Linked DNA regions of Homo sapiens. The protein of the gene in region 1 interacts with the protein of each later gene in a biochemical or structural test. Each region holds a gene or a part of one and is shown on either strand. Other genes may lie near its edges.

Region 1 (3,821 bases):
GCCAAGGGTGTGCTGGAGCTCATAGCAAATTGCACCAGCTCACAAGAGGCAATTGTCTCTCTGAACTGACTGGCACATAAATGCTGTCTTAAAATTGGCCATGCTAGTAGTATTTACACTCTGGAAATTGGCAAACACTATGAATCAGGGCTTCACCCTGCCACACAGTGCTGTCAGTGTGCCCATCCATCTGTCCCTCTCTGTTTCCACCCACCCAGGGTTAGCCTTTATACTTGCTGTTTGAGGTTGGTGAGGCTGGTATGGCTGCACAGGAGTGAGGCAGAAGACATCAGAGGAAACAGGCTGGGTCGTGAAGCCTGCTGGAAGGTCTTTACTCGGAGTGAGATGAGAAACCAAGCCGGGATTTTAAGCAGGAGAATGGCCCTGTTTGGCTCAGGTTAAGGGCTCACTCCAGTTGCTATGGGGAGAATGGACATAGGGAGATGGGGCAGAAACAGGGAAACTGGTAGGAGGCAGCTGCAAAACTCCAGATGGGACAGATGATGGTGGCTTGGTGTTGGAAGCTGGGCTAGTGCACCTGCGCTATTTTGGAAGGCACCATTGTGCAATATAGCAGCTCAGGGAGGTAATGGTGAAGGTGGCCTGATGTAGTAGGATTCTGGATATTTGTATAAGGCAGAGAGAAAAGAATATGCTAATGAATAGATTTTGGGGTGAGAGAGGAATTAACGTTGACTTCAACGTTTTGACCTGAACAACTGGAAGGATGAGATGGCTATTTACTGAATTAGAGAAGCTGCCAGGGGGAGCAGGTTGAGGGACTCCTATCCTATGCTAAATCGTAGATCATCTTTTACACAGTCTTCTAAAATTTTTAGTTTTGCTTTTCACATTTAACTCTTTAATCCACCTGGGGTTGATTTTTGTTTTTAGTATGAAGTAGGGATTCATTTTCAAAAACTGTAGATGGCTTTTGTGAGTTTTAGCCATTTAAGAAAGTAGTAAAACTGAGGCTTGAGGAAACTTTAGGCAGCTTGCCCAGCTGTATAAAGAGTGAGATGACGAGCTCAGGCATTCCTTGGGCATCTGTGTGCCCAGCCCTCAAAATAATGGAACAACAACACCAGAAATCTTTCCCCAGTAGGGATTCATTTTCAATTCCTTCTTTATGTGGGTTACTGACTGCCTCAGTACCTTTTATTGAATAGGCTCATCTTTCCTCCCGGTGACCTGCAGTGGTACTTCTGTTATCCATCAGGTTTTGACACATGCATAGATCAGTTTCAGGCTCTATTCTGTCCATTGGTCTAATATTACATTTTTAATCACCAAAGTATTATAAGTAGCCTGATATCTGGTCAGGCAATACTCCCACTACCACCCCTCCACCACCATCACCAGTTAATGTCTTGGGTTTCTAGGCCCTTTACTCTCCCATACAAATGTTATTAATAAACAGAAATTTCCATGAAAAACCCTGTTGGGATTTTGATTGGAAATACATTGAATCTACAGCTCAATTTAAGGGCTGTTGTCAGCTTTATAATGAATTTTCTAATATATGAATATGGTATATACCTCCATTAATTTAAGTCTTCCTTCGATATCTCTCAGTAACATTTTGTGATTTTTTTTTTTCTATAAACATCATGCAGGTTTTTTTGTTAGACTTACTCAGGAGAATCTCTTTTTTTGCTGCTGTTGAAAATGATATCTTTTTAAAATTATATTTTCTAACTTTGCTGCTGATACCGTATACACAAATGCAATTTTTGTTTTTGTATATTAATCTCGTATCCAGAAGCTTTATGCAGCTCACCAATTAATTCCAGTAATTAGTTATTGATTCTTTAGGAGTGCTTTTGAATAGTAATAATGGCTACATTTATGCATAGTATTTAACATATGCCAGGTACTGCTCTGAGTACTTTATATATATATTTTATTCTGCACATGAATCCCATGTGGTAAATGCTACAATTCCCATTTTTTTTTCCAGATAAAAAATAATTGAGTCATGGAAAAGTTAAATAACTTAATTAAGGCCACACAGATAGGGACGGTCAGAATTGGGATTTAAACCCTGCCAGTCAGAGGCTAGAGTTTAAATTCCTAAACACTAGGCTTTTCTTACCTTTATATCAGCATCTGGCTGACCTCTCTAGGACAATGGTGTCTATAAGCAGGAAAAACAGGCATCCTTATCTCCTTCTTGATTCTAACATTACATCATTAAATATAATATAGTCTGTTTTCATACTGCTGATAAAAACATACCTGAGACTGGGTAATTTATAAAGAAAAAGAGGTTTAATAGACTCACAGTTCCATGTAGCTGGGGAGGCCTCACATCATGGTGGAAGGTGAAAGGCACGTCTTACACGGTGGCCGACAAGAGAGAATGGGAACCAAGTGAAAGAAGTTTCCCCTTATAAAGCCATCAGATCTCATGAAATTTATTCACTACCATGGAAACAGCATGGGGGAAAATGGAGCTGGCTCTGGGTCTTAGTCTGGCTTTGGGTGTCCTGAGAGTTTGGTGAACTTCATGTGGGGAGAGTATTGGCATGGCCGTGAGTCCTGGGTGTATAGGCTTCCCACAGACAGGGCTGCGGGGGAACCATGTGGGATGGCCTGCAGGAATATGGCCACGGTGAGTGGCCCTTTGTGTATTTTCTGCCTCCCAACTCACCGTGGCTCCAGCTTCAGAAGGAGGTCAGAGCAGAACACCCCTGTGGGCTAACATGAAGGTCCTCATCTGCTCCATGCAGCAGGGCTGGGAGGGGAGAGTAGAGGGTCAGCCCATGGTAAGGACAAGCCACATACAAATCAAAACCTTGGCTGGGCTCACCTGGACATTGTGTCTTTGAGTCACAGAGCAGGCAGAATGGTAGCTTACGTCCTGTCCTTTTCCCTCTGTGTCCAGGTATCCAGGGATCCCTGAACCAGCTTACCAAGGATTTTCTTTTTTTCACTTCTTTCCATTGTTGGAATTCTGATTTCCTCTATTTGGTGTCTTCCTCTTTCTTGGTTTGCTCTCTTGTCTTTGGGGTGGATTCCATCTCCCAGCTTGATGTGACTGTCATTGGAGAACACAGCCCTGTAATGATTTCAATCCTTTGAAATTGTTCAGATTTGCTTTAGAGCCCAGTAGATGGTGATTTTTGTAGATGATCTGTGTGTGCTTAAGAATAATCTCTCCAGGCCGGGCGCAGTGGCTCACGCCTGTAATCCCAGCACTTTGGGAGGCCGAGGCGGGTGGATCATGAGGTCAGGAGATCGAGACCATCCTGGCTAACAAGGTGAAACCCCGTCTCTACTAAAAATACAAAAAATTAGCCGGGCGCGGTGGCGGGCGCCTGTAGTCCCAGCTACTCGGGAGGCTGAGGCAGGAGAATGGCGTGAACCCGGGAAGCGGAGCTTGCAGTGAGCCGAGATTGCGCCACTGCACACCAGCCTGGTGACAGAGCAAGACTCCATCTCAAAAAAAAAAAAAAAAAAATCTCAGGAGGCGGAGCCAGGCAGATCACAAGGTCAAGAGATCGAGATCATCCTGGCCAATATGGTGAAACCCTATATCTACTAAAAATACAAAAATTAGCTGGCATGATGGCGCATGTCTCTACTAAAAATACAAAAATTAGCTAGGCGTGATGGCGCACGCCTGTAATGGCTTCTCAGGAGGCTGAGGCAGAAGAATCGCTTGAACCCGGGAGGCGGAGGTAGGCGGAGGTTATAGTGAGCGGAGATCGCGCCACTGCACTCCAGCCTGGTGACAGAGCAAGACTCCCTCTCAAAATAATGATAATAATAATAATAATAACAATCTCTTGGGTAAGGGATTCTGCATTTGTCTATAG
Region 2 (3,226 bases), on another chromosome or scaffold:
ATCCCAGCACTTTGGGAGGCCAAGGTGGGTGGATCACCTGAGGTCAGGAGTTTGAGACCACCCTGGGCAACATGGTGAAACCCTGTCTCCACTAAAAATACAAAAATTAGTCGGGAGTGGTGGCATGCACCTGTAATCCCAGCTACTCGGGAGGCTGAGGCAGGAGAATCGCTTGAACCTGGTAGGTGGAGGTTGCAGTGAGCCGAGATTGCACTACTGCACTCCAGTCTGGCGGACAGAGCAAGACTCTGCCTTAAAACAAACAAACAAAAATGAATAGATAGGATAAAAAATTAAAGATAATATGTAAAAAAAAAAGATAATATATAAAAAAATGAGTGGATAAACAAAATGTGGGCTATGTGTACAGTGAAATATTATCTGGGCCAGGCGTGGTGACTGTAATACCAACACTTTGGGAAGCGAGGCAAGAGGATTGCTTGAGCCCAGGAGTTCAAGACCAACATAGTGAAACCCCATCTCTACAAAACGTTTTTAAAAAATTAGCCAGGTGTGGTGGCATATCCCTGTAATCCCAGCTACATGGGGGGCTGAAGTGGGCGGATCACTTGAGCCTGGGAGGTCAAGGTTGCAGTGAGCTGTGATCGTGCCACTGCACCCTAGCCTGGGCAATGGAGTGAGACCCTGTCTCAAAAGAAGGTTAAAAAAAATAATTTCTGCTTGGGGGAATGGAAGAATTTTGGAAATAGATAGCTGTGATGGTCACACAATGTGGATGTGCTTAATGCCACTGAATTGTATACTCAAAAATGATTAAGATGGCAAATTTTTTGTGTGTGTATACACACACACACACACACACACACACACGTCTTTTTTTTTTTTTTTTTGAGATGGAGTCTTGCTTTGTCCCCCAGGTTGGAGTGCAGTGGCGTGATCTCGGCTCACTGCAACTGCCTCCCAGGTTCAAGTGATTTTCCTGCCTCAGCCTCTCGGGTCACTGGGACTATAGGCACCCGCCACCATGCCCCGCTAATTTTTTTTTTAATTTTTTTTAATTTTTAGTAGAGGTGGGGTTTCACCATGTTGGCCAGGCTGGTCTCGAACTCCTGACCTCAAATGACCCACCCACCTCGGCCTCCCAAAGTGCTGGGATTGCAGGCATGAGCCACCACGCCCAGCCTTGTTATGTATATGTTACCATAATAAAAAAATAGGAGGGTGTGCTGGGGATGGTGGCATGGAGAGCGTCTCTGAGGGGTTCCCCATGACCCTCTGCTTGGGCCCTGCCAGGGTGGATGAGGTGAACTGGTCTCACTGGAACCAGAACTTGGGCATCATCAACGAGGACCCGGGCAAGAATGAGACCTACCAGTATTATGGCTTCTCGCATACCGTGGGCCGCCTCCGCAGGGGTGAGTGGAGGGGCGGGTGCGGAGGGGAGCCCCAGTCCATTCTCATCACGAATTTGCTTTGAGCAGTCCTGCTTCTTTCCGGGACTCAGTGTCCGTGTCTACAGAATGAGAGAGTGTGCCCCTGAGCTTCCTCTGCTGCTTGTGAATGCCTGGGGCACCTCACCTACGTGGCTTCATCCTGGCCCTCCCTACTGTTGACATAAGCTGGCCTGGGGAGGGAGGACGAGCTCCTCAGCCATCCCTGTGTGGAGAAAACCTTCCTGTTTGTCCAGTAAGCCATGAGCACGCGAGACGCAGCTGGAGAGGACACAGGCACTCAGGGCATTCGGCTCCAGGCTTGAATCCTGGTTCCTCCATTCTCTCCTGGGGAGGCACCTTGACCTCTCTTGAGCCCCAGTTTCCACCTCTGTAAAATGAGCATAGTCACATCCCCCCTTCAGAACACTGTGGAGTGCCCAGTACACAGTAGGCACTCAATATACGCACGCTCTCTCTCCACCAACCCCCACCCCTCCCTCTGATGTGCTCTCGGTGCAGATCGCTGGTCCTCGGTGGTACCCCGCGTGGTGGAACTGAACAAGAACTCGAACCCGGACGAGGTGGTGGTGCCTCTGGACAGCATGGGGAACCCCCGCTGCGATGGCCACCAGCAGGGTTACCCCCGCAAGTGGAGGACTGATGACGCCCCGCTCTAGGGACTGCAGCCCAGCCCCAGCTTCTCTGCCCACTCATTTCTAGTCCAGCCGCATTTCAGCAGTGCCTTCTGGGGTGTCCCCCCACACCCTGCTTTGGCCCCAGAGGCGAGGGACCAGTGGAGGTGCCAGGGAGGCCCCAGGACCCTGTGGTCCCCTGGCTCTGCCTCCCCACCCTGGGGTGGGGGCTCCCGGCCACCTGTCTTGCTCCTATGGAGTCACATAAGCCAACGCCAGAGCCCCTCCACCTCAGGCCCCAGCCCCTGCCTCTCCATTATTTATTTGCTCTGCTCTCAGGAAGCGACGTGACCCCTGCCCCAGCTGGAACCTGGCAGAGGCCTTAGGACCCCGTTCCAAGTGCACTGCCCGGCCAAGCCCCAGCCTCAGCCTGCGCCTGAGCTGCATGCGCCACCATTTTTGGCAGCGTGGCAGCTTTGCAAGGGGCTGGGGCCCTCGGCGTGGGGCCATGCCTTCTGTGTGTTCTGTAGTGTCTGGGATTTGCCGGTGCTCAATAAATGTTTATTCATTGACGGTGGAGATGGCAGGATGATGGCAGGGGTGGGAGGGATGGTAACAGGCATGAGACTGCAGCGAGGGAGATGGGAGAGCTAGGAAATGCCTGGGGGGAGCCAGGGGCAGGGGTGAGAGTGAGGGCAGAAGTCCTGACCGGGAGGCATTTAGAGTGTTGGTGGTTGGGGGCTGGACTGGGTGGTTGTGATGGTGGTGGTGGTGGCCTGAGAGGTGGCTGAGGTTGGTGTGGCTGTGGGGAAGGTGGGGGTGGAGGGAGGAGAGCAGAGTGATGCTGGTGGGGGTAATAATGCTGGCCAGGGAGAGTCATGTTGGCAGGGCGAGAGTGATGCTGGTGGGGGTGACAGTAGTGCTGGCTGGGGGATAATGATCCCCATGGAGACAGTACATTTGGGCAGGGGAGAGTAACGCTGGCCAGGGGTTGACAGTGCAGGTGCGGGGACTCTGGTGCTCATCAGGGGACAATTATACTGGGAGGGCTGTCCTGCTAGGCGGGAGGATGGTTGCCAGGCAGCACGGAGCAGGCGTGGCAGTGGGTGAGCCTGGAGTGTCAGCAGGGTGCTGGGTGTGCATGCGGGTCGCTGTGGTGAGGACCATGGTGGCAGGGGCGATTGGCAGTGCTTGTGGAGC

The links.
Region 2: the proteins of CIMIP4 (region 1) and TRPV4 interact in a test that uses a peptide from one of them, tested with the Homo sapiens proteins (one large-scale study listed by BioGRID).

The regions. Positions count from the first base shown.
Region 1 is NC_000022.11:36,994,273-36,998,093, reverse strand, and holds part of CIMIP4 (ciliary microtubule inner protein 4), read left to right. Parts: intron 1-3,821.
Region 2 is NC_000012.12:109,782,466-109,785,691, reverse strand, and holds the end of TRPV4 (transient receptor potential cation channel subfamily V member 4), read left to right. Parts: intron 1-1,254; coding exon 1,255-1,376; intron 1,377-1,913; coding exon 1,914-2,071; 3' UTR 2,072-2,603; downstream 2,604-3,226. UniProt on the Homo sapiens protein: Non-selective calcium permeant cation channel involved in osmotic sensitivity and mechanosensitivity. Activation by exposure to hypotonicity within the physiological range exhibits an outward rectification.